Homo sapiens: one gene and its partners. The protein of the gene in region 6 purifies or fractionates together with the protein of the main gene of each other region. This does not show direct contact. Each region holds a gene or a part of one and is shown on either strand. Other genes may lie near its edges.

Evidence for each region.
Region 1: the proteins of DNAJA1 (region 6) and GOLGA4 purify together in Homo sapiens (affinity purification with mass spectrometry; 2 studies listed by BioGRID and IntAct, with this or other methods). This does not show direct contact.
Region 2: the proteins of DNAJA1 (region 6) and OGDH fractionate together in Homo sapiens (co-fractionation; one large-scale study listed by BioGRID). This does not show direct contact.
Region 3: the proteins of DNAJA1 (region 6) and OSBPL9 purify together in Homo sapiens (affinity purification with mass spectrometry; 3 studies listed by BioGRID and IntAct, with this or other methods). This does not show direct contact.
Region 4: the proteins of DNAJA1 (region 6) and OSBPL11 purify together in Homo sapiens (affinity purification with mass spectrometry; 3 studies listed by BioGRID and IntAct, with this or other methods). This does not show direct contact.
Region 5: the proteins of DNAJA1 (region 6) and AHSA1 purify together in Homo sapiens (affinity purification with western blotting; 2 studies listed by BioGRID, with this or other methods). This does not show direct contact.
Region 7: the proteins of DNAJA1 (region 6) and SART3 purify together in Homo sapiens (affinity purification with mass spectrometry; 2 studies listed by BioGRID and IntAct, with this or other methods). This does not show direct contact.

Annotation. Positions count from the first base shown.
Region 1 is NC_000003.12:37,358,271-37,361,770, reverse strand, and holds part of GOLGA4 (golgin subfamily A member 4), read right to left. Parts: intron 529-3,500; coding exon 499-528; 3' UTR 466-498; intron 1-465. UniProt on the Homo sapiens protein: Involved in vesicular trafficking at the Golgi apparatus level. May play a role in delivery of transport vesicles containing GPI-linked proteins from the trans-Golgi network through its interaction with MACF1. Involved in endosome-to-Golgi trafficking.
Region 2 is NC_000007.14:44,704,127-44,707,626, forward strand, and holds part of OGDH (2-oxoglutarate dehydrogenase complex component E1 isoform 1 precursor), read left to right. Parts: intron 1-3,098; coding exon 3,099-3,262; intron 3,263-3,455; coding exon 3,456-3,500. UniProt on the Homo sapiens protein: 2-oxoglutarate dehydrogenase (E1o) component of the 2-oxoglutarate dehydrogenase complex (OGDHC). Participates in the first step, rate limiting for the overall conversion of 2-oxoglutarate to succinyl-CoA and CO(2) catalyzed by the whole OGDHC.
Region 3 is NC_000001.11:51,620,092-51,623,591, reverse strand, and holds part of OSBPL9 (oxysterol-binding protein-related protein 9), read right to left. Parts: intron 1,121-3,500; exon of another isoform or gene 1,048-1,120; intron 1-1,047. UniProt on the Homo sapiens protein: Interacts with OSBPL11 to function as lipid transfer proteins.
Region 4 is NC_000003.12:125,529,498-125,532,997, forward strand, and holds part of OSBPL11 (oxysterol-binding protein-related protein 11), read right to left. Parts: intron 2,518-3,500; coding exon 2,364-2,517; intron 1,084-2,363; coding exon 1,018-1,083; 3' UTR 1-1,017. UniProt on the Homo sapiens protein: Plays a role in regulating ADIPOQ and FABP4 levels in differentiating adipocytes and is also involved in regulation of adipocyte triglyceride storage. Weakly binds 25-hydroxycholesterol. Interacts with OSBPL9 to function as lipid transfer proteins.
Region 5 is NC_000014.9:77,461,093-77,464,592, reverse strand, and holds part of AHSA1 (activator of 90 kDa heat shock protein ATPase homolog 1), read right to left. Parts: intron 2,434-3,500; coding exon 2,351-2,433; intron 1,952-2,350; coding exon 1,834-1,951; intron 1-1,833. UniProt on the Homo sapiens protein: Acts as a co-chaperone of HSP90AA1. Activates the ATPase activity of HSP90AA1 leading to increase in its chaperone activity.
Region 6 is NC_000009.12:33,031,773-33,035,272, reverse strand, and holds part of DNAJA1 (dnaJ homolog subfamily A member 1), read right to left. Parts: intron 1,058-3,500; coding exon 943-1,057; intron 1-942.
Region 7 is NC_000012.12:108,530,174-108,533,673, forward strand, and holds part of SART3 (spliceosome associated factor 3, U4/U6 recycling protein), read right to left. Parts: intron 2,162-3,500; coding exon 2,049-2,161; intron 1,108-2,048; coding exon 1,031-1,107; intron 138-1,030; coding exon 1-137. UniProt on the Homo sapiens protein: U6 snRNP-binding protein that functions as a recycling factor of the splicing machinery. Promotes the initial reassembly of U4 and U6 snRNPs following their ejection from the spliceosome during its maturation.

The DNA of each region.
Region 1 (3,500 bases), on a different chromosome or scaffold from region 6:
ATCTTACTAGTTTTCATTATTTCTGACTGGCCTTGACTCAGGCTTTACAGGATTTTGAATTCTCACGGAATATACCACTTCATTTTTATCTAGAAAATGATTTTTCATTTCTCTCTCACAATCATAATTTCAAAGATCATTCTTGGAAAATTAAAAACAAAAGGGAAAATAAGTTACATAAATACTTTTTTGGATTCTTTAACAAAATTTCAAAGAGCAATTTTCAAACTTTCAATTACTCTTTAAAGAAATGAAATTTCCTAAAATTATATAACTCTTACTGGTGGTAGTAATTTTTAACTATTATCGATCCATATAACAGAATGAACAGAAAATACTTATATTAACCCATAGCATAATCATATATTTATTAAACAAGAGCAAAAGAATTCCAGCAAAATGGTTAGTATCAGGCAACACATTTGATTTTTGCACAAAAGACACAAGACATTGTTCTTCACTCACCACATGTTAACTAAGCACAGACTGATGGTTTACTCAGAAGATACCACTGCGAGGTGAAGTAAACTACAAAGCCAGGAAGAAAAAAAGCTTATTGGGTTAGTTTTAAGACTTAATATAACACATAGATTGTATGTGTATATGAAGTTCATAGGATTACAGACTGTACTTAAATTTTTCTCAAATCTCCCCAAATCAAGGGTGTACAGGCAAGGAATAAGGAATCTGTAATACCTCCCCCCATATCCTAGGTAAATATAATATTATGTAGCTGAGATTTTACTTGCAACTTTCATTTGAAGACTTAAACAACGTAATGAAAGGTGTACTGCATATTTTAAGTACATATTTACCAGCTGAATTACGGGGCAATTATTTGCTTTACAAAAGGATCTCTTTCATAATTCCATGAAAGTACACATTAAAATTTGATTTACATAATCTCAATTTACCCTAAAAAGTTTTCGGGAAAATGATGATGAATTTGAAGAGCCATGTGTCTATATGTTGAATTCTCATTCCTAATGTGTCAATTTGATCACTGAATAACTCTCTTGTAATTCAACAATGTATCAGAAATGGTTTCAGGAATGGTGACCCAAACTGAAATTTCAATTTAAGGAAACTCAATCTCAAATATAGTTTTTACTGTGACAAACCTTAAATAAATTCTATGCCCCATTTTAAGATGGTCATTGTCCAAAATCATTAATTACCTTCACGGTGATTTAAAATGGCAGCATTAAAAACAAAGATTGCTTATAAAATCTGAGTCTATTCTTGGATAGTGTGGCCAACCTCAGAAACATCATTTTATTTATCTTTCATATTTAAAGTTAGTAAAAAGCAGCAAAACCAAAAGACAAGCTAGAAAATAATATGTGCAACACACACAACACAATGAGGTTAATATCCTCTCTGGCAGAAGTATACAAAATCCATGTATATGGATGTTCCCTATGTCTATGCTTGTAAAGTACTGAAAATCTTGAAAACATAAGTAAATGGAATGAGGAGGAAACTGGTGAACTAAACTGTAGGACATCCATATAATCATACAATCAGCCATTGAAAAGAATGAGACCAATTTGTAATAAGGTGGAATAATATAAAAATATATTAAGTGAAAAAAGCAAGCCATTGCATACTCTCATTTTTATAAAATAAAATGAATGATAAAGGAGTAACTATAAATATGTAATTACATGGCTTAGAAAACATGGAGATATTCCCCAAACTGTTCACAGAGATGATACTGGCATAGCAGAAGTAGTCTGGAGGCTGAAGATCATGAGGGACTCCCTTTCTATGTTTCTGGCTTATAATATTTTTTCCAGTGATCACGTATTACCTTATTCTACCAACACCAGAATCAAAACCAATCTCAAGAAAACAAATATGTATTTGACATGTGCAATATTTTCTATAATGTGTCAGTTTTATTTGTATGTGTTTCCTGAACCCACCTTGCATGCATCTTCTGAGCCCATGCAGAGGGAAAGGGTAAACCTCGTGTGGGAATGGAAAACTTTTGTACCTAGCAATGCTGAAAAGTTCTGATTTTATTAATTCGGAGGAAATTTTGAAAATTCCAACAGGGGAAGAAAATGAGACGTTAAGAGAACACAAGACTGGTCCAGGGCAAGGACTGATGAAGAACTATATACACCACCAAGAATCAGTGTGAAAGCAAAGTTGAAGGAGAGTCAACAGAAGAGCAATTGAAAAAGATGACTAGAATGGACAGAGAACACAAACAAGCCAACCTTCTCCATCAAAGAGAAATTTTCTTTAATGGAGTCATCAAGAAAACAGTGATGTCCATTTATGTCATTACATTTTGCTAGCACTCTAAAGAGAAAAATGTCTAAGAAAACTTTTAAAGAGGGGTTTCCATATAACAAAGGAATCTCAATTCTGAGATGCTTGTTACCCAATTACAATAAACTTTCCTAATGAAATTATCTTAAATAATGTAATAATACTCTCATTTTAAAAAAAATCAGGGTGTACTTCTAGGGCAGTTTTATTCAATAAAAACACTAACAATTAGATGAGCCAAGAACTTATGTATTCACTCTTGCCCATATTGTGCTACTCGAATATCCAGTCTACTCTGGCCATCTAAGCTACCTAAACCATCATAAAATGAAGTAGCAAGGTATAGTAAACTAAAAATTGAGAGGAGGGAAAAAAAGCTGTTCTAGGAAAAACAGAGATATGTGCATTTGGTATGTGCATTTTGTTTTAACTTCTGCCTGCTGTTTAGAAGGCAATTCTTTTTCCTACTTGAAACAAATATAAAACAAGATTTTATACTTTGTGGGGAAAGAAACCTTAGAGATAGTATAATCCAACAATCTCATTTTACCAATGAGGGTCAAAAATATGAAAACAGTTTGCGCTAAGTTATACAGCAGTCAAACCATTGAGATCTAGGCTCTCATCCCAGCAATGTCGCATGTCGCTGGCACTCTAAGGTACCGAAGTTGGAGATGGGGGCATTTTGTGGGCTGGTATCACCGTGTGACTTGACCCTCCTACTGAGGTCTTTAATGGTTTTTCTTATACACATCAATGATTTACCTTTCCAGTCTCTTTTTCCAGAAAAGACTAGTTCTACACATTGCTAAAAGGAGGCTAAATAATTATCACCACCATCCCTACATTATCACTCAGCGCAGGCAACTGTACTCTGGTTCCTGGACAATCCTAACAAGATTATGTTAGTCTTGTGAAGAAAAGAGGCTCTGAGAATTGCCTGAGTTTCCACAGCAAGTCAACAAAGGACTAAGATTCCTTCCCTATACACCAAGACCCTCAAATAAACCAGACTGTAATTATGCTCTGTAATTTAACCTTACTTAACAGATAGTGATTTCTCATCTATAAAATCTACTCGAGACTAGGTTAAACTCTGAAAACAGTAATAACTTGTATCCTGTAATGAGGTTTTTTAAATAAAGAGTATAAAACTCACTGAAGAGAGAGAAGTATAGTAAAGATAAGATATATTGAAAAGTACCTCACCAGCAGTC
Region 2 (3,500 bases), on a different chromosome or scaffold from region 6:
CTGCCAAACTTTCCACAGTGGCTGCATTTTACATCCCACCAACAGTATATGAGGATCCCACCATCTCTACATCCTCATCAGCACCTACTATTTTCTGGTTTTTTCATAGTAGCCATCTTAATGGGTGTGAGATGATATTTCATTGTGGCTTTGATTTATATTTCTGTAATGATTAAGTGATGTTGAGCATCTTTTCATATGCTTATTGGCCACTTGTATATCTTCCTTGGAGAACTGTCTATTAAAATCCTTTTTTTTTTTAATTTAATTTTTTTTAAGAGACAGGATCTCTCTATGTTGCCCAGGCTAGTCTTGAACTCCTGGGCTCAAGGAATCCTCCTACTTTGGCCTCAAAGTATTGAGATTACAGGCATGAGCCACGGTACCCAGCCTATTCAAATTATTTGCCCATTTTTGAATCTGGTTGCTTGTTTTTGAGTCTTAAGAGTTCTCTGTATATTCTAGATATTAATTCCTTATCAGAAATATAATTTGCAAATATTTTCTCCCGTTCTATGGGTTGTTCTTTTATTCTGTTGTTAGTATCTTTGGTTTTGGTTTTGGGTTTGGGTGTTTTTTTTGTTTGTTTTTTGTTTTTTTCCGAGATGGAGTCTTACTCTGTTACCCAGGCTGGAGTGCATTAGTGCAATCTCAGCTCACTGCAACCTCTGCCTCCCAGGTTCAAGTGATTCTCCTGCCTCAGCCTCCCAAGTAGCTGGGATTACAGGCGCACGCCACCATGCCTAGCTAATTTTTGTATTTTTAGTATAGACAGGGTTCCACCATGTTGACCAGGCTGGTCTTGAACTCCTGACCTCAGGTGATCTGCCCACCACAGCCTCCCAAAGTGCTGGGATTACAGGCGTGAGGCACTGCACCTGGCCTGTTGTTAGTATCTTTTGATGTACAAAAGTTTTTAATTTTCTTTTTTTTTTTTTTTTTTTGAGACGGAGTCTCGCTCTGTCGCCCAGGCTGGAGTGCAGTGGCGGGATCTCGGCTCACTGCAAGCTCCACCTCCCGGGTTCACGCCATTCTCCTGCCTCAGCCTCCCAAGTAGCTGGGACTACAGGCGCCCGCCACTACGCCCAGCTAATTTTTTGTATTTTTAGTAGAGACGGGGTTTCACCGTTTTAGCCGGGATGGTCTCGATCTCCTGACCTCGTGATCCGCCCGCCTCGGCCTCCCAAAGTGCTGGGATTACAGGCGTGAGCCACCGCGCCCGGCCAAGTTTTTAATTTTCATGAAGTCAGATTTGTCTATTTTTTCTTCAGTTGCCTGTGACTTTGGTGTCATATCTAAGAAATCATTACCAAATTCAGTGTTGTGAAACTTTTGCCCTATGTTTTCTTCTGAGTTTTATAGTTTTTGCTCTTATGTTTAGATCTTTGACCCACTTTGAGCTAATTTGTTTTGTTTTTTATTTTTTGTTTGTGTTTTTTTGAGACAGAGTCTCACTCTGTCATCCAGGCTGATGCAATCGTAGCTCACTGCAGCCTCAATTCCTGGGCTCAAGTGATCCTCCTACTTTGGCCTCCCAGAGTACTGGGATTACATGTGTGAGCCACTGTGCCCAGACTTTTATTCTGTTTGTATCATAAATGGAATTGTTGGCCTAATTTCCTCTTCTTATTGTTCATTGTTAGTGTATAGAAACACAACTGGTTTTGGTTACGTGCATATGATGCGTAGTGCTTAAGTCAGGGTATTAGGGTGTCCGTCACCCGAGTACGATACATGTTTGTTAACCTTACTCCTTTATCAAACGTTGAACTTAATTCCTTCTATCTAACTGTATGTTTGTACCATTCAACCCACTTTTCTATATTTTTTTGAGATAGATTCTTACCCTGTCACCCAGGTTGGAGTGCAGAGGCATGGTCATCATGGTTCACTGTAACCTCTGCCTCCCAGGCTAGAGTGATTCTCCCACCAAAGCCTCCCAAGTAGCTGGGAACACAAGGTGTGCACCACCGTGCCTGGCTAATTTTTGTACTTTTGTAGAGACGGAGTATCACCATGTTGCCCAGGCTGGTCTCGAACTCCTGAGCTCAAGGGATCCTCCTGCCTCAGCCTCCCAAAGTGCTGGCCAACCCACTGTTCTCTATCTGAATATTTTCTCTGATTGTGTTGAAAGTTTTTATATTTGTAAAATTCTGAGCAGCAGAAACAGAGTAAACATGGGATTTTTTTTATATAATTTTTTTTTTTTTTTGAGATGGAGTTTTGCTCTTGTTGCCCAGGCTGGAGTGCAATGGCGCATTCTTGGCTCACCACAACCTCCGCCTCCCGGGTTCAAGCAATTCTCCTGCCTCGGCCCCCCGAGTAGCTGAGATTACAGGCATGCGCCACCATGCCTGGCTTATTTTGTATTTCTAGTAAAGACAGGGTTTCACCATGTTGGTCAGTCTGGTCTCGAACTCCTGACCTCAGGTGATCCGCCTGCCTCAGCCTCCCAAAGTGCTGGGATTTACAGGCGTGAGCCATGCGCCCGGCTGGTATTTTTTTTTTTTTTTGTCTGGAGATGGAGTCTTGCTCTGTTGCCCAGACTGTAGTGCATGATCTCAGCTCACTGCAACCTCTGCCTCCCGGGCCCAACCGATTCTTCCACCTCAGCCTCCCGAGTAGCTGGGACCACAGGCGCACACCACCATGCCTGGCTCATTTTTTGTATTTTTTTAGTAGAGACGGGGTTTCACCATGTTGCCCAGGCTGGTCTCGAACTCCTGAACTCAGGCAATCCGCCCGCCTCAGCTTCCCAAAGTGCTAGGATTGCAGGCGTGAGCCACCGCACCCGGCCGGGATGTTTTAATAATACTCTTGTCCCCGAAGTCTGAGCCAAGCTGTTTTGAAGGCTAGCCTGGTGTTACTTGATACCCAGAGCTGGCCATGTCTGCTGTGTATTTGTTACACGTAACGTGCTTTTCAAAGTGTGCCTGGTCTGAGCAAATACAGGGCATCAGAGGCTGGTGAAGGGGAAGCATCTCTAACCCTTGAAAGCTGCGTCTCCTGGCAGCAGTCCCTGGCACAGCCCTGGGCCCAGGAGAGCTCTCAGCCACATACCTGAGAGAACCAGCCTAGCCATGGGAACTCTCTTGTAGGAACCCACTTCCAGCGGGTGATCCCAGAAGATGGCCCTGCAGCTCAGAACCCAGAAAATGTCAAAAGGCTTCTCTTCTGCACCGGCAAAGTGTATTATGACCTCACCCGGGAGCGCAAAGCACGCGACATGGTGGGGCAGGTGGCCATCACAAGGATTGAGCAGGTGAGGGCAGGTGGTGCCATCAGGGTGTCCCCCCAGCGGGGGTCAGGGCTCTGGTGCCTTCACAGAACAGCCTTGCTTGGGGTGTGGCCCTCAGGTTCCTGACCTTCCCTGCTCGGAACACCAGTTTCCCTTTGCTGGATCTTGCCTGCCCTCTGAGTTTCCTCTTTTTGATCTGACCCCTGCTGTCTCCTAGCTGTCGCCATTCCCCTTTGACCTCCTGCTGAAGGAGGTGCAGAAG
Region 3 (3,500 bases), on a different chromosome or scaffold from region 6:
TATGATTTCTCTAACGACTCCTTTTACAAGGAATATCTTGAGTAGCCCAGGTAACTTACTAATTCAGTTTCTAACCCTCTCTCCAAAAGCAATACAAATCAAGAAAGAGGGTTAAACATTTGTGGGTAATGACTAAACAAATCATATTTAGCTATTCCTTAGCTATTCCTTTTTCCAGTTCCCACTGTCATTGTCCTAAATCTTTACTATACTCCTTGCGTCCTGACTGTATCCTCATTTTTAACATTGACCTTGCTTCCCATCCCTACACCATTTAAGCATATTCCTATTTTAGAAACTGTTCCCCTCCATTCCACATTCCATGTCCTCTTTGCCCTTTCTACAATGAAACATCTTGAATAACCTCCATTCGCTTCATATATTTCCTGCCTCCTCTTTACTCTTCAAGCCACTCCAACCTGCATTCCATACCTACCACTCCATGGAAACTGCTCTGCCTAAGAACATCAATGATGTTCATCAATCCAATGGATATGCTTTAGATCTCATCTATTTAATCCTTTCAGCAGTATTCAAGCCAATTTACTACTTCCACCTTGCCATCCATGACTGCCACATTCTTCTAGTTTTTCTCTTACATCTCTGGCATCCCTTTTCACTCTCCTGTGCAAGCTTTTTTCCTCTGCCAATCCCTTAAATTGTGATTGTGGTGGTTTAAAATTTGTCCACAAATTCTTTTCAAAAGATAAAGCCTAATTTCCCTCCTCATGTCTGAAATTCCCATCCCCAGGAGCATGAGTGGAATTTAATGGCTTGTCTCTAATGAACAGAATAAGGCAGAAGTGGTGGTCTCTGACTAGGTCATAAAAGGGATTGAGGCTTCCTCTTTGCTCTCACTTGGATCACAGCCAGCTGCTCTGTCATGATGACACTTAAGCAGCTCAATGGAGAGGCTACCTGGTGAGGAATGAGGCCACCTTCCAACAGCCAGCAAGGAACTGCCACTTTCTGACAACAGCCATGTGAGTCATCGTGGAAGCTGATCTTCCTGCTCCAGTCAAGCCTTTCAGATGACTGCAGCACTGGCTAATATATTGACTACAACTTCATAAGAGACCCTGAGCCAGAACTCAAAGTTCTGACCCACGAAAACTATGAGGTAACAAACTGTTGTTTTAAATTGCTACATTTTGGAGTAATCTGTCATAACGCAATAGATAACTAAATCCAGTGGTATTTTCCAGAGTCCTATCCAAAGATCTCTATTCTACTCACTCTCTCAACTCTCCATATATGAAAAACTAATATTTATCTGCAGCCCAGATTTATTTTATGTTTTACTGACTGATAAGAGGATATGCAGCCCAGATTTTTGTCCCAAGCTCCAGACTGTAACACATCTTTATGTCAATTTCAACATGCCCCAAAGCAACCACTTCTCTCCCCCAACCTGTTCTTCCTATCTTCCTTTTTATCATTCAACCAGCTCAAGCTGAAAACCTGGATGTCTTCAGACTCTTCCCCTTTCACTCACATCCAATCACTAAATCCCATCAAAAGCAACCTCCTGATTACTTCTCCGCAACCATATTCTTTAAAATAAAAAAAAAAACACACATTTCACCTGAACCTACTGATCAATTTTAACATCATAGAGAGACAAGCTAACATCATATGCCTCTTGATTTGATAGGTTCCACCTATATTCTTGCCCAAAAGAAAAAAAATAAATTTGATTAAGCTTTCAGCTCAAATTATCAATTTATATAGGAAATACAGAGGACAAAGGAACCTGTTTAAACATACCAAAATGATGCTTCCAACAAAATCCAAAATGCAGAAAATTCTACAGAGTAAATGACCTGGTGTCTTAGACAAATAAATGGCCAAGAAAAAGAGAGGGAGAACTAGAGATTAAAAGAGACTCTATAATTTTATATGCAGATCTTGTTTGGAATTCTGACTCAAACCAACTGGTAAGGAAGAAATGTTTGCGACATTCTAGGAAATTGAACAGACTGGATATTTGATATTAATAAATACTACTATTTAGCTGTAATAAAAGTGTTTTGATAACATTCTTTTGAAAATAGAGGGACCTTAACTTTCTTTTTTTTTTTTTTTTGAGACGGAGTCTTGCTTTGTCGCCCAGGCTGGAGTGCAGTGGGACCATCTCGGCTCACTGCAAACTCCACTTCCTGGTTCAAGTGATTCTCCTTGAAGGGAGAGGCTGAATTCTTGGCCTCCCAAGTAGCTGGGATTACTGGCGCTGGCCACAGCAGGGCAAATTTTTGTATTTTTAGCAGAGATAGTGTTGGCCAGGCTAGTCTTGAATTCCTGACCTCAGGTGATCTCCCCGCCTCGGCCTCCCAAGGTGCTGGGATTACAGGCGTGAGCCACCATGCCTGGCCACATACTGAAATATTCACAAGAAATAATAATCTGGGATCTGCTCTAAAAATAATTCAATAGAGGAGGAAGGAGTTAATGGGAGTACTAATAAAACAAGACTGGCCATATGTTGATACTTGTATAAGCTGGATGAAATGAATTCATTTTACCGTCCTCTTTAGTTTTATGAATGTTAAAAATTTTCTATAATAGGCTGGGCACAGGGGCTCACGCCTGTAATCCTAACATTCTGGGAGGCCGAGGCAAGTGAATGCTTGAGCCCTGAAGTTCGAGGCCAGCCTCAGCAACATGGTGAAACCCCGTCTCTACCAAAAATACAAAATTAACCAGTCTTATCAAAATAAATGAATAAATAAAATAGATTTATTTTTTTAAATTTCTATAATAAAAGATTTTTCAATAATAATAAAAAGTGCTTACAACACTGAAATAGCTCTCCACTGCCCTGGGGATAAAGTTCAAATTCCTTAACATGGTTTGCCAAGAAAGCCTTTCATTATCTGTCCTCCTGCTTAGCTCCCCAGTTCATCTCTCACTACTACCTACCTCACAGCCCAACCTCCAGAACTGACAAGCTGCTTACTCTTCTCTCCTCCAAAAAACTTTTATTCCCTTTGTCTCAAGCACTTTTCCCTCTCTGCTCATACGGCTAATCTCTCCTCATCATTCAAGTCAAAACAAACCTGCTTCTCCAAGGAAACCTTTCCTAACCCTTCAAGACTGAGTCAAGTAGCCCACCTATGTATCCCCCTGTGCTTCCTCTATCACAGCTCTTATCTGGTATGTCCCCCAACATATTATAGGTACCATGAGAGGATGAACAATTTCCATCTTATTTGCCACTTTAACCCCACTTCCTAACAAAGTGCCAGGCACACAATAGGTACTCAGTAACCTTTCATAAATTAACAAAAGGCACAAACTCCTCTTTCTAAACTTCCAATTCCTCATAGATCTATAACTCCCCCAATTTCCTTCCTTCCATATCTTCTTTTGTGATCATAAGCCACATAAACAATTGGTTGCTCACATAGTGTTCCTAAATTTATATCCTTAGTTCTCCCTGGCCATTTCATCTAATAAAAATTCAACTAAGGTGAGGCTTGTGTAAATCTATTCAGTTCACA
Region 4 (3,500 bases), on a different chromosome or scaffold from region 6:
CACATATAAGTTTTGAATTACTGACAAATATGAATAGAATCATTTATTTTAATTTTTAACAGAGGTAAAATAAAGCATACTTATCCAAAGGGATAACACATAATACTGGATATTAACCTAAAGGTGAAAAGAAAGAAGGAAAAAAGTAACAGTTTTATTTTTTAATATTTGCTATTTTCTTTAATGCCTTAGTTCTGGAGAAAGGCTAAAATCTCATCATATTGACATTAACACATTTTTAAAAAGTGTCTCTCAAGTGTAATATTTAATAAAACTAGGTACTGAAAAATGTTCTGAAATTTTTCAAGTCAATGTTGTTTTCAAGTATATTAAAATGCTCAGAAGAAAAAATTCTCCATGGTTATAATTCTGATCAATCTATAAATGTACTTTTTAAAAGAGAGTTCCAACAGAGGTGGATAATAGGTAAGTTCCTCAGACACAGGCATACAGTCTTTTTGAAGAAATAGAATGCCTTGTTACCACAACCTGGTTGATTTTTTTTTTTAAACACTGATTTCAGGCACAATGGCTGAATCCACTTCTGGGTCATCTTTCTCCTCCTCTTGGTTGGTTTACAAGAGTAGTGAATACTTCAGTTATGGACAGAAAGAAAGACACAAACTCTGAAACGGAGACTTCACTTTTCACTACAAAGAAATCAAAGTCACTGAGTTCTCATTGTTGTGTGTATCTGCTGCCCCTGTGCAAAAATAGGGGATTCAAACTTAACTTTAGGAGCAAGAACTGGATAAAAGATTCATCTACTGATTCAGGTAACAAGTTTTAAGATGGTATTGCTCACATCACATGAACAGGTTGGTAAAAGGTCCACTGTGTTTCTTTACCACTTTGGTCTTGCTGCAGTATTATGGTGCCCTAGTAGGTACATTCAGGTTTAGCTAGTTTCAGTCTGCGCAATCAGGAAGCAGGTCACTCAGTGCAATGACTCCATTCTGGGAGGATTTAGGGTAAACAGAGAAGAACCTCATTTGGTCGAGTTTTAGATAGTATGTGTCACTCTGCTGGTTGTGTTGTTGGAATTATTTTCCAAAGTGGTTTATGATAAACCCAGCCATCTCCCTGAAACAAATAAAAAGATAAAGAATCATCCCTCTAATATTATCAAAATCAGTAACCAAAACTAGAAGCAACACCTTCACTGAAATGGAATTCTATTTTCACATTCAAAAACAAGTTTTTGTGAAGGAATAAAGTCTTTGTGATTAAGACATCAAACGATGCCTGTGGTTTAGCTAGGATTTAGGTGAGAAGACATGGTATGGGAGGATCTAGTTTGTGACCCATGAACATTTAATTTTGCAAGAACCATTTGTAGCAATTTTGCCAATTTCGCCAAGATGCTACAGATTGAGCCTCACTCACAGAGTTATGGGCAGCAGGTGGAGTACAGAGAAATGATCGGGAAGGTACTAACTGTTCTCCCTGTCTCCACTGGCACCCCAGAACTCATTTTTTTTCTTTCCTTTTTTTTTTCCCCCAAGACGGAGTCTTGCTCTGTCAGCCAGGCTGGAGTGCAGTGGCACAATCTTGGCTCACTGCAACCTCCGCCTCCCTGGTTTAAGCAATTCTCCTGTCTCAGCCTCCCAAGTAGCTGGGATTACAGGCACGTGCCATACCCGGCTAATTTTTGTATTTTTAGTAGAGATGGGGGTTTCACCATGTTGGCCAGGCTGGTCTGAAACTCCTGACCTCATGATCCGCCCGCCTCGGCCTCCCAAAGTGCTGGGATTACAGACGTGAGCCACCGCGCCAGGCCCCCCAGCTCATTTTTCTTTTTTTTTTTTTTGGAGACAGAGTTTCACTCTTGTTGCCCAGGCTGGAGTGCAATGGCGCAATCTTGGCTCACTGCAACCTCCGCCTCCTGGGTTCAAGCAATTCTCCTGTCTCAGCCTCCCGAGTAGCTGGGATTACAGGCATGTACCACCACACCTGGCTAATGTTGTATTTTTAGTAGAGACTGGGTTTCTCCATGTTGGTCAGGCTGGTCTCGAACTCCTGACCTCAGGTGATCCGCCTGCCTCGGCCTCGCAAAGTACTGGGATTACAGGCATGAGCCACCGAGCCCGGCCACCCCCTAGCTCATTTTTAATGATATATAGATGTTCTCACTTAGAAACTCTTCTTTCTTAGAATCTGTTCTTGGTATATCTGCCTTTTTTTTGAGACAGAGTCTTGCTATAGGTTACCCAGGCTGGTCTCAAAAACAGTTGGTATTTATATACAGCCATACTACTTTTAAAAATAAAGATGTATAAGTGATAGCAATTCAACAAAGCCTAGTAAGCTAAAGTTCTCAGCCAAGTAGATACATTTTTATCTTGAACACATGTACAGCATACCTCTTTAATAAAATATTTGGTTTTCCAAGGTGTGCCTGTTTCAGTACGATGCCTTTCTTCAGTCCTCTGACGTTCTTCCAGGGTATGCTTATGCTCTGTGGCCTTATCAATTTCAGATTCTCTCAGCGAGTCTGTCACATTTTTCCACAATCGCCTGAAATCCAAAAACCACACATTTTACAAGCATTCTTTAAAAGAGATAATTAAATAGAATCAATACCCTCAAAATTACAATAATTTTATAAAATAACGTTTCCTAAATCACATCTACAATGTCATGCTTATGAATTCCAAGAATAACGATACTGTGCTGCTGATGGTTATGTCCAGGATGCTGCTCCTTCTGCTTCTTTTTAAATTAAAAATAATTTGTATTTTTCCAGGTTATAAAAGCAGGATTTTTTGTTTTTAGAAAACTTAGAAATTAACGAGTAAAAAGAGAAGTAAATTTTCAAAGTTGAAATGTAAGCAAGACTAATTGTGCTTCTGGACATGATGAAATAATGGGGAACACATTTATTTTCCTGCCTTCATCAACCAGGAAACCAGGCAACATATAATACAATAGTGGTTTTCAGATACTGAGCAAAAGGCAGTGCAGGGCAGTGATCCTTGAGAAAGGAAACAAATGAGGGGAGTCCTATGAGTGCTCTAACTCGCTGTCCAGAGTGTTTCTAGGCCACGCACAGGGAGAGGGAAGCTTAACAAATCTCAAGCAAAAAAAAAAAAAAACAAAAAAAAACTGCCACAACACTTCTTTAGGGAAAGAACTGTTTGTTGAACAAATGGTGCTGGGACAACTGGATATACATGTGAAAAAAATGTAGTAAGTTAAACATAAAACTACCATAAACCCAGCAATTCCACTCCTGGGTATTTACCCAAGAAAAATGAAAATAAATGTCCATACAAAGACTTGTAGGAGAATGTTCACAGCAGTATTATGGATAGGCAAAATGTGATATATCCATACAGTGCAATACTATTCAGCAATAAAAAGCAATGAACCACTGATACATGCAATTAATACTTCATGGATGAACCTCAAAAACGTTATACTAAGGAAATAAGCCAGGCATAAGAGATCACACATTGTATGATTTATATGAAATATCCAGAAAAGGCAAATTTATAGAG
Region 5 (3,500 bases), on a different chromosome or scaffold from region 6:
AAGATAAAATTCCAGCTCATGGAAGTTACTTCTTAGTAGCTGAGATCTGGAGTTTCATTACAGCTTGACAAACACAGCCATCCTACCACAGAATGAGGTTATGACCAGAAAAGGAAGAGGCTATTTTTACATCTTTACTTTTGGCCTATGCCAGACTGGTACCTGGGTATATGCTATAGAATACAGTATGTTCACTGGGATTATTATTATTTTTTTTTTGAGATGGAGTCTTGCTCTGTCACCAGGCTGGAGTGCAGCCTGCACTCCAACTCACTGCAACCTCTGACTCCCTGGTTCAAGCTATTCTCCTGCCTCAGCCTCCTGAGTAGCTCGGATTATAGGCGTGCACCACCATGCCCAGCTAATTTTTGTATTTTTAGTAGAGACGGGGTTTCACCATGTTGGCCAGGATGGTCTTGATCTCCTGACCTTGTGATCTACTAGCCTCGGCCTCCAAAAGTGCTGGGATTACAGGTGTGAGCCACTGCACCTGGCCACTGGGATTATTTTTAAAAGCTTATCCTGACTCAACTGGAAACATTATAACATATTAAGTGCATGTGAGGTCTACTATGGAAGGATGGCGTGAACGCCGTGGCACTTTGATGACTTCAAGAGTGGGTAATCTACCCAGCACCTATGGATGCATGGTTAGTGCCTTTCCTCCACTCTGCCTTACCTCTGCAGAAAAGCCACAACTAGTTATGGCACTGGTGTACTGGTCCTCCCCAAAAAGGTGTCTATCACCTTCCATCACCTTCTTTGATGGTTATTATACATATTCCAACACCAAGATCAGAATACACTGGCAGAAATGGAATCCCAGGGGAAAGCTGAGCTGACTTCTATTCTAAGCATCTAAATATCCCTGGAGAGTGCATATCAAAGATAGTCCAGACTGTATTCAAGTAATGAGTCCAGAGATGCCAAGTCTTTAGATTAGCGCTGTCCATTAGAAATATAATGTGAGCCTCAAATACAGTTTTTTTTTTGTTTTTTTTTTTTTTGAGATGGAGTCTCCCTCTGTCACCCAGGCTGGAGTGCAATGGCGCGTTCTTGGCTCACCGCAACCTTTACCTCCTGGGTTCAAGCAATTCTCCTGCCTCAGCCTCTTGAGTAGCTGGGATTACAAGCATGCACCACCATGCCCGGCTAATTTTGTATTTTTAGTAGAGATGGGGTTTCTCTATTGGTCAGGCTGGTCTCGAACTCCCGACCTCAGGTGATCCGCCCACCTCGGCTTCCCAAAGGGCTGGGATTATAGGTGTGAGCCACTGTGCCCAGCCCGTAGTGTAATTTATACTCACAGCACATCTCTTGTGTTTTTTGGTCATCCAGGCTGGAGTGCAGTGGCATGATCTCAGCTCAATGCAACCTCCCTGCCTCCTGGGCTCAAGCCACTCTCCCACCTCAGCCTCCCGAGTAGCTGGGATTACAGGCATGGGCCACCGCATCCAGCTAATTTTTGTATTTTTTGTAGAGACAGGGTTTCGCCATGTTGCCCAGGCTGGTCTCAAATTCCTGAGCTCAGGCAATCAGCCCACCTCAGCATCCAACAGTGCTGGGATTACAAGTGTGAGCCACCGCGCCAGGCCATCACAGTACATTTCAGTTTGGTCTAGCCACATCTAAAATGCTCAACCATCATTATTAGGCAACACAGCTCCAGATCTTTCCCTTACTCCGAGCTTATGGACTGACTTTAAGATGAAATAAGCCCCCTCCCCCCAAATCTTTACCCATTTGCCAAAGAAAGGACTGTCCAGGCCCTTAACCAGAGTCTAACAGGTGGAAACTACCTCCTTAAGGCATACAGAACTACTCAAGGGATACCTGTTTTGAGGGTGCTGATGTAAATTCCCATTGCTTCTCTTAGAAGTTTCACCCCTTCTTCCTTCATTAAGGCCACGAGATTTGTGTCAGGCTCATCTTTGGCAAGGCTCACACTAATCTGGGTGAAAGATGAGAAGTAGGTGGTAAATAACTTGAGGGGCACCCTCATTATGGAATGTGGGGGCTGAGCAATCAGGTGACTGCTGACATTTCCAAAGGAAATGCATGAGTACTGCGGTATTCGTACAATCCCCATTAGTGTTCCTTCTTGAGTCCTCTCTGTCAAGTGGCTAATGTTAGTTAGAACCCATGTCACTAGCTAAAGTGAAGAAATTAAAGAAGTGCAAATTGCTCTAGAAGTTTCCAATGGCACCATATGCCTAGAAAATTATCTGCAGGCTAGGGTTCTGAATGCTTGGACCAAGCCTGGGCTATGAATCCTGAATGACAGGTCACTTTTCTCATCTGAGAATAAGAGGATATAGAGGACTCGGATTAGGAGTTATGAAGCACAAACCTCCACTTCATCCACGCTGTTTTCATCAGACAAATTGGGGATCTCCACATGTCCTTTGTATTGTACTCCTGACTTAGAAGTACCTGTCAAAACCAATGCAATGTCATTAGTCCACTCCTTGGCAGGAAAGGTCTCTGCTCCAGGGTCCTAACTGCTACCTCACTTCTGCTGCTTTTGGATGGCTGAACTGATCCTCTTTATTCTGAGAATGCCACATGCCAGATGCAATCAACACCCGCACCCCCAAAAGAAATGTCTTTCCTCACCAGGTTACTGGAAACCAACTATGTTATTACAATGTGAGACAAAGAGCTACAGATTTGGTACTAGCATGAGTTATACCATGAGAACTTGGGTCAAAAGCCAGTAGTTCTGCTAGAATACTTGTTTTGAAAATATCAATTTATTTCAGTGCAACTGAAATATTAGGGAACAATTTGATTATAATGAGAAGTTCATGTTTGCTTATATGTGACTCCATCCATGAGAAACACTAGGTGAATACGGAAAGCCTCACCCAGCTACACAGGATACATAAAACACACACATCTCAAACACCTATCTGCCAATGACCTCAGTTTACAGCGTGTGTTGTGAGCCATACCCATCCTCAACGAGTGTAATGTTCCCTCTGATTGTGGATGACTCTCCTTCTACCATTCCATAGTAGTCCTCAAGCTGCAACCCTTCTGATGCCCACCTTTTCCCCCCGCAAGACAGAGTCTTGCTCTGTCGCTCAGGCTGGATTGCAGTGGCATGATCTTGGCTCATTGCAACCTCCACCTCCCAGGTTCAAGCAATTCTTCTGCTTCAGCCTCCCAAGTAGCTGGGATTACAGGTGCGTGCCACTACACACGGCTAATTTTTGTATTTTTTAGTAGAGATGGGGTTTCACCATGTTGGCCAGGTGTGTCTCCAATTCCTGACCTCGTGATCCACCTGCCTCAGTCTCCCAAAGTGCTGAGATTACAGGCGTGAGCCGCCGCGCCTGGCTTTGATGCCCACTTTCACAAATAAACTTCAGGTCTTTTTCATGGTAAAGCACCATATTTATTGTAGTATTCACCTATTTTTTATTTTTTTTGAGATGGAGTCTCACTCTGTTGCCCAGGCTGGAGTGCAACGGTGCGATCCCAGCTCACTGCAACCT
Region 6 (3,500 bases):
CTCCTGCCTCAGGGCCTGCCACCATGCCTGGCTAATTTTTTAATTTTTAACAGAGATGGCATTTCACCATGTTGGCTAGGCTGGTCTTGAACTCCTGACCATCCACCTCGGCCTCCTAAAGTGTTGGGATTACAGGCGTAAGCCACCAAACCAAGCTGAAATATTAATTAATCCTAAACTAGTTTAAGATGTTCCCAATTTCACCTCCACTCCATTAAAAAAAAAAAAAAAAAAAGGTGGGTTCTTACTGTCACCCAGGCTAGAATGCAGTGGCATGATCATAACCTTGAACTCCTGAGTTCAAGCCACTCTTCTGCCTCAGCCTCCCCAGTAGCTAGGACTCCTGGCCTCAAGTGATCCTCCCACCTCAGCCTCCCAAGTTGCTGGGAATATAGCATGCACAGAGGGTGTTATGTTAGCCATGGATCACAAACATTTGCTGTTAATCATCCATCTTTCTTGTGCTTCAGTGTTCATCATACTCATTATTTAGCTCAAAATGGTAGACCTGAATTTATACTTAGTATTGAGTTACAATTTAAGTTTCCTACAGAGATGCTTTTGGATATTTATAATTAAAAGCAATTCAATTTATCATAAATGAGATTGAAAACTGGTGAGAGCTTTAAGGCACTTAAATTGCTTTACAAAGATTGAGGGCAAATTTTTGTCCAGGGATGTTTTCCCCACCCATCTGCTGCTTAGGTTCACACAAAACATCTAATTGAAACACATTTTCAACGTTCCATACTTAGAGACAAAAAGCTAAAAATCTGATCCTATGTATTCAACCTCTTATGATCTGAACAATGGTTAACAATCTTCCTGAGAAATAGGTTCTAAGAGTAATGGAAAACACTTTAAAAAAAACAAAAAAACAAAAAACAAAACCAACAACCCAAATATGTGATATCAATTTGAGTGGTTGATAAAAGTCTTTACCGAGTAAAAACAGCATGGTCCTTCTGATCTAACACAATGATAATATCGCCTGGCTCCAGTCCTGGTTCTTGGTCTCCTTCACCATGGAATGTTATCTTCTGGCCATCTTTCATGCCTAAAAACAAAACATTAATTTTGTACTTTTATTAAATATCCAACTAAGGTCAGAATCATAAAATCTATACATAGATGTTTGTTTATGCATAAAAATCACAGAAATGACTAAGAAAGCCCACTTAAGTAGTTCAGTCCAATTTGCTCCTGAAGAAAGGTATCATAGTGGAGAACACAAACTCCAGAGGCAAAGAGACTAGCCTTCAAATCTCAGAGCTGCTATTCACTGGCTGGATTACCCTGGGGAAGTAAGCTGCATATCCTTTCCAAGTTTCAACTTTCCCACAGACACCTACACCTCATTAGCAATATTTAGAGTATTAACTCAACAGGTATATGCTGGTACTAAACCATGACTGGCTAACACTGGTTATAACCAAAAAATGTTAATTAAGTATTTCAGTTTCATTACTTATAACACATCAAATTACTTCTATTAAAAGTCTAACAGCAATGTAAATCAAGACCCTTCTATTGTAGTATTTATATATAAAACTAAAAAAATTTTAAATCTATAATCTTCTCTTGAGATAGGATCTTGCTCTGTTGCCTAGGCTGGAGTGCAGTGGCACAAACATGGCTCACTGCAGCCTCCATCTCCTGGGCTCAAGTGATCCTCCCACCTCAGCCTCCCGAGTAGCCAGGACCACAGACCAGCTAATTTTTGAATTTTTTTTTTTTTAATAGAGATGGGGGTTCTCATGTCGCTCAGGCTGGTCTTGAACTACTGGGCTCAAGGGATCCTGCCTCGGCATCCTATAGTGTTCGGATTACAGACCTGAGCCCCTGTGCCTGAAAATCCGTATTTTAAAGAACTATTCAGTATAGTCCCCTTAAAAAAAGGGTAATTATACTTTGAGAGGCCGAGTCAGGAGGATACCCTGAGGATAGCACCCTGGAGCACAGGAGTTCCAGACCTTGTCTCATTTAAATTAAACAAGCAAACAAAACAATCAGTGCTAGACACTCCCTTAGCCCATGTGGTCCGTAAAATACAAGGGGAGGAGTATTTTCTAACAGGGCAAAAAAACACGCCTTTTTTTTTTTTTTTAAACTGAGACTTCGTGCCCCTCACCTCTGACCCACATATTTTAGTTCAGTAAGGGTTTGGGCAACGTCTCTTAGAACATAACTCATGTAAGAAAACCTGTGTTTGTAGAGTATTACACCAAAGCAGTTATCTCCTGATTATTTCCCAAGATCACTCTGGTTACCTAACAGAGCAATCATGTTTCACCTTTACGTATGGAAAATATTAATCCTGTATAAACAGAGCCAACAGTACAATGAATTCCTACATATCCATCCAATTTGGCTTCAGCAGTTACTAACTCATGACTAATATTTCATGTATTACACCCCTACGCATGCCCCCCACATATACTTTCAAGCAAACTCCAACTATATCCATTAACCCACAAATACTTCAGTACGTACCTCTTAAATAAGGACTTAAAGCGCTATCAGTATCATACACTGACAAAATTAAACAATCTGTCTTTAATCGTGTATTGAGGCAAAATAACTTGTTATGCTAGGGAAGCAATTAAACTCAGCTAGGTTTTCCTGAATACAGAGTAAGAGTAGGCACAGCACAAATGCCTTCACTTGCTATATAGTTAGGGCATTAATTTCAAGTTCTCACTTACAGTCCATTGTTGATAGGTTCTTGGAAATTGCTTTAAATGAAATGACACATAACAAGACCAATTTTTTTCCCCTCAGCTGTGTTACAGTGACATGACATTATTTGAGGACCTGCATGACATTATTTGAGGTCATTCTGCTAGAAGTCCCAGTTTCCAAGAACCTATCAACAACGTTAAGACTTACTCTGTATGCTATTGGTATCAAGAACACCTCAAAGTATAAACCTTAGGCATGGGCCCACTAAGGGGTAAACACAGATTTATTAAGTTCAACAACTGGCCAAGGAAACTTATTTTTACCTTTCAATGTACTACATTCTTGGGTGGAACCCTGGGGGTCAGAGAGGCCAGTATCATGAGTCACATGATAGAATCCTATTGCAGCCACTTATGTTAATGTAGATTTGTATATTAATATGGAAATATGTTCAAATATTAACAGTTCCAGATTGGTATCATACCACAGTACAGTATAATAGTAGACCCATTTATAAACAGCAAAATCTGAAAAGAGATTACCATAATGTTGACTTAAGTTTCCTTCTGGGGTTATATACATTTCTTAAAATTTCTGCAGTGTATTGCTGTAATACATTTTAAAATGTTTTTGCAAGTTGACAAGAGTAAAATTTAAAAATTGACAAATCAATCAAATCCCGAGAATACAAAAAAAAGGTTATATAGTTATTTCTAAATCTGGAGCCCAATGGGTTAGGGAAGTGTCAAGTCTAAAAAAATGAAAGGTAGTCTATCAAATCAATTAACGGAGCATTTAAATATAATAGATGGGCAAGT
Region 7 (3,500 bases), on a different chromosome or scaffold from region 6:
TCCTCATCTGCTCCGCGCTTCTCTGGGCCTCTGATCTTTTTCTTCTTTTTTAACGCTTTCTTCTCAGCCCGAGCTCTTTTCCGTTGTTCAGCCTTTTCTTCTTCTTGCTGCACAAGGGCTGCTTCCTTCTCTGCAGCCTAGAAAAGTGGGAAGATGATGCATCGCTGGATGTGGCAATTACATTCACTGTACTGATTTGTCATGAAAGGGGAGAAGGAGTGGAAATTCATTACTAATGAAAAGCAGAGATCAGGAGAAAAACGTGGACAGGCTCACGGCTGTTCCACACCAGGGCTCATTCAGGTTCGTTGGAATTCTGGATCTGATGTCTCTGTTACATTAGCAATTTCCTCACCCTAATCATTACTCACCAAAAGGAAGGCAAAAAAATCCATAAAACTGGCCGGGCGCGGTGGCTCACGCCTGTAATCCCAGCACTTTGGGAGGCCGAGATGGGTGGATCACGAGGTCAGGAGATCGAGACCATCCTAGCTAACATGGTGAAACCCCATCTCTACTAAAAAAATACAAAAAATTAGCTAGGTGTGGTAGCGGGCACCTGTAGTCCCAGCTACTCGAGAAGCTGAGGCAGAAGAATGGCGTGAACCCGGGAGGCAGAGCTTGCAGTGAGCCGAGATCATGCCACTGCACTCCAGCCTGGGCAACAGAGCGAGACTCCGTCTCAAAAAAAAAAAAATCCATAAAACTGAAGCCCTAAATAAGTTGGGGTGTTCATGTTCCACTCACTAGGCTAAGTGAGGCTCTTCTTTATTCTTTTTCATCAATTCTCGTAAATTTTAGAGCCAAAATTCCCTCACTAAATGAAACAAGTACTTAATATTGGGGCTGATGTTTTAGAACAATGTAAAAATGACACAAGACAGGTTTAAGCATTGATCTAAATATTTTATAATTAATACTGAGTAAAAGACACTTAGGAAAATGTAAAACATCTTGACAAGAAACATCCATACCAAACTGAGCCAAAATAGCTACCAGAGGTGCCAAAGACTTCAAACATTGTCATTACCTTCATTCTCTGCTCATTGACACGAGCTAATCGGGTTTCAGTTTTCTGAACAGCTATATCCCAATCTTCTAAAGAACCTTGAAAGAAAGAGAAGCAAAACTTTCACTCTTTAGGATTTTGAAGGATACAATCACATAAATTTTTCTTAATTTCTCTGTACCTCCAGAAGAGATCTCTCCCATCAAACAATAAGAAAATGTAATCCCTGTAGGCTTGAAGTTCAGAATTCAAATAGTCCTTCTAAGTGGGTTTAAAATGTCCCTCTCCTTTCAGGAGAGACTTGAAAACCAGAATATGATCTATTAAGGGCTCTAAATGGCAAAGAATATGAAAACGAACGTTCTAATGCAAAAGTACATTTATATTAAGACTGAAGAATTTTAAGAGCTACTCAAATGTTGAGGCATTTATTTCTTATTTTTTGGTGGTCTTTGCAAGCCAGTTCTGAGGGGTCCATACCCAAAATCCAGACCAATACCCACAGATAAGTTCACATTATTTTTCTATTGGTTCTAGCTAACACTGAAGGCTCTGAAATTTAACAAGGGATGCAAAGGACACATTGAGCCATTTGCCTCTCCAAGCTCCTTTGTTGGATAGATGTTGTACTAGAGCACAGTGACTCTCAAAGGAGGGATCCTGCCCATCAAGAGACATTTGGCAATGTTAAGAGACATTTCTGGTTGTCATGTTTGGTTGTGGTGGTGAAGCTGCTACTGGCATTTCAGGGCTAGAAGCCAGGGATGCCCCTAAACATTGTATAACGCACAGTCCCCCCCACAGAGAATTAGAACCCTGTGCTACAGTGACATCACAGAGTCCTCCTTGTAGCTGCAGAATTTGAGAAGAGCTGCAGGAGGACTCATTTTCAGGACACTTGTGACAGTCTAATCATAGGGCACCACCTAAGGTGGCAGCATAAACACAGTCTGTCCCCAGACTGTAACCAGATGCTCCTACTTGAGACCAAACAGCAAATGGGTTAGGCTCCAAGCCAGAAGAGAGCTGGGGGTCCCACCTTCTGTCCTCTCCATGGTGAGTAACACTTCGCAGACGTGCTCTGGGTAGTCACTGGTGCACTGGACGGCCCGGTGCAGAGCCTTCCGGCAGTGCTGGGTGTCACCATGAGCTCTAAGGCAGAAAACAAAAAGTTGCTGCCACCAGGACACAAAGTGGAAGGCACTCGAAGGGAGAGGCCGTCTTCTCCCAGGTAGAAACTCACTCTTCAGTAACTCTAGCTTCTGAGAAGACCTTAGCTTTCAGATCTATCCATGATGCTTTCTCCTTCCAGAGTCTCTACAGTCACCTACGAAGTATTTCCCTGAAGCACTCTCTCCCTCAGCCATGTAGGGGCTACTGGAAAGTGTACCTGATATTGTGATCTGCAACCAGCATTCTGCCTTTACAGCATTCACATGTGCGGCACATGGCGGGGGAGTCCAACAGCTCTCTGTAACCTGATACAGTCCCCAGGGAAATTTTACTATGGCGTCCTACTGACAGGAGAGTTATGAATCCAGGGTAGTGTCAAATTTCATACCCAGAGTCAGATCTTTTTTTTTTTTTTGAAAGGGAGTCTCGCTCTTGTCACCCAGGTGGGAGTGCAATAGCACGATCTCGGCTCACTCCAACCTCTGTCTCCCAGGTTCAGGCAATTCTCCTGCTTCAGCCTCCTGAGTAGCTGGGATTACAGGTGCCCACCACTACACCCAGCTAATTTTTGTATTTCTAATAGAGACAGGTTTTCACCAGGTTGGCAAGGCTGGTCGCAAACAGATCCTTTTTGTACACTGCTAATCACAACAGCTACACAATTCTGCTAATCATAACTGTTATGCAACAGTGTATTCATATTTGTTTTTAAAACATTTTAAATATACATAATTATATATACATATTATGATGCTCAGAATAAATTCAGAGCACTGGTTCTCAAAGTAAGATCCACGTACCCCTGAGGATCTCCCAGAGCCTCTCAGGGGCCCTGCAAAGTCAAAACTCCTTTTATAATAATACCAAGACATTACTGGACTTTTTCACTGTGTTGACATCTTCAAGACAGTGCACAAGTAATGGTGGCCCTTAGCACAAATCAAGGCAGTAGAAATCTTTTTAATGCACTGTGTGATGAAATACTAAGTACACTTAAAGCCCTTCTGCATACTGAAGTACAATGGTTATTGCCAAAAAAAAAAAAAAAAGCATATTACTGTTTGAGTTGCAAGCTAATCAAGTCATTTTTTTCAAGGACACCATTTTTACTTGAAAGGAAACTTGAGTGACAAACCACGGTCAGTTACTCAGACCTGGGTATTTGGCAGACATTTTTGAAAATTAACAAAGTGAGGCTGCCACTCTGGGGAAAACCACTGACATTATTTGTTGCATGTGATAGAATTCAAGCTTTCAAGTGAAAATTAGAATTTTGGAAAACTTGTATCTGCCACCACAAGTCTGACAGCTTCCTACT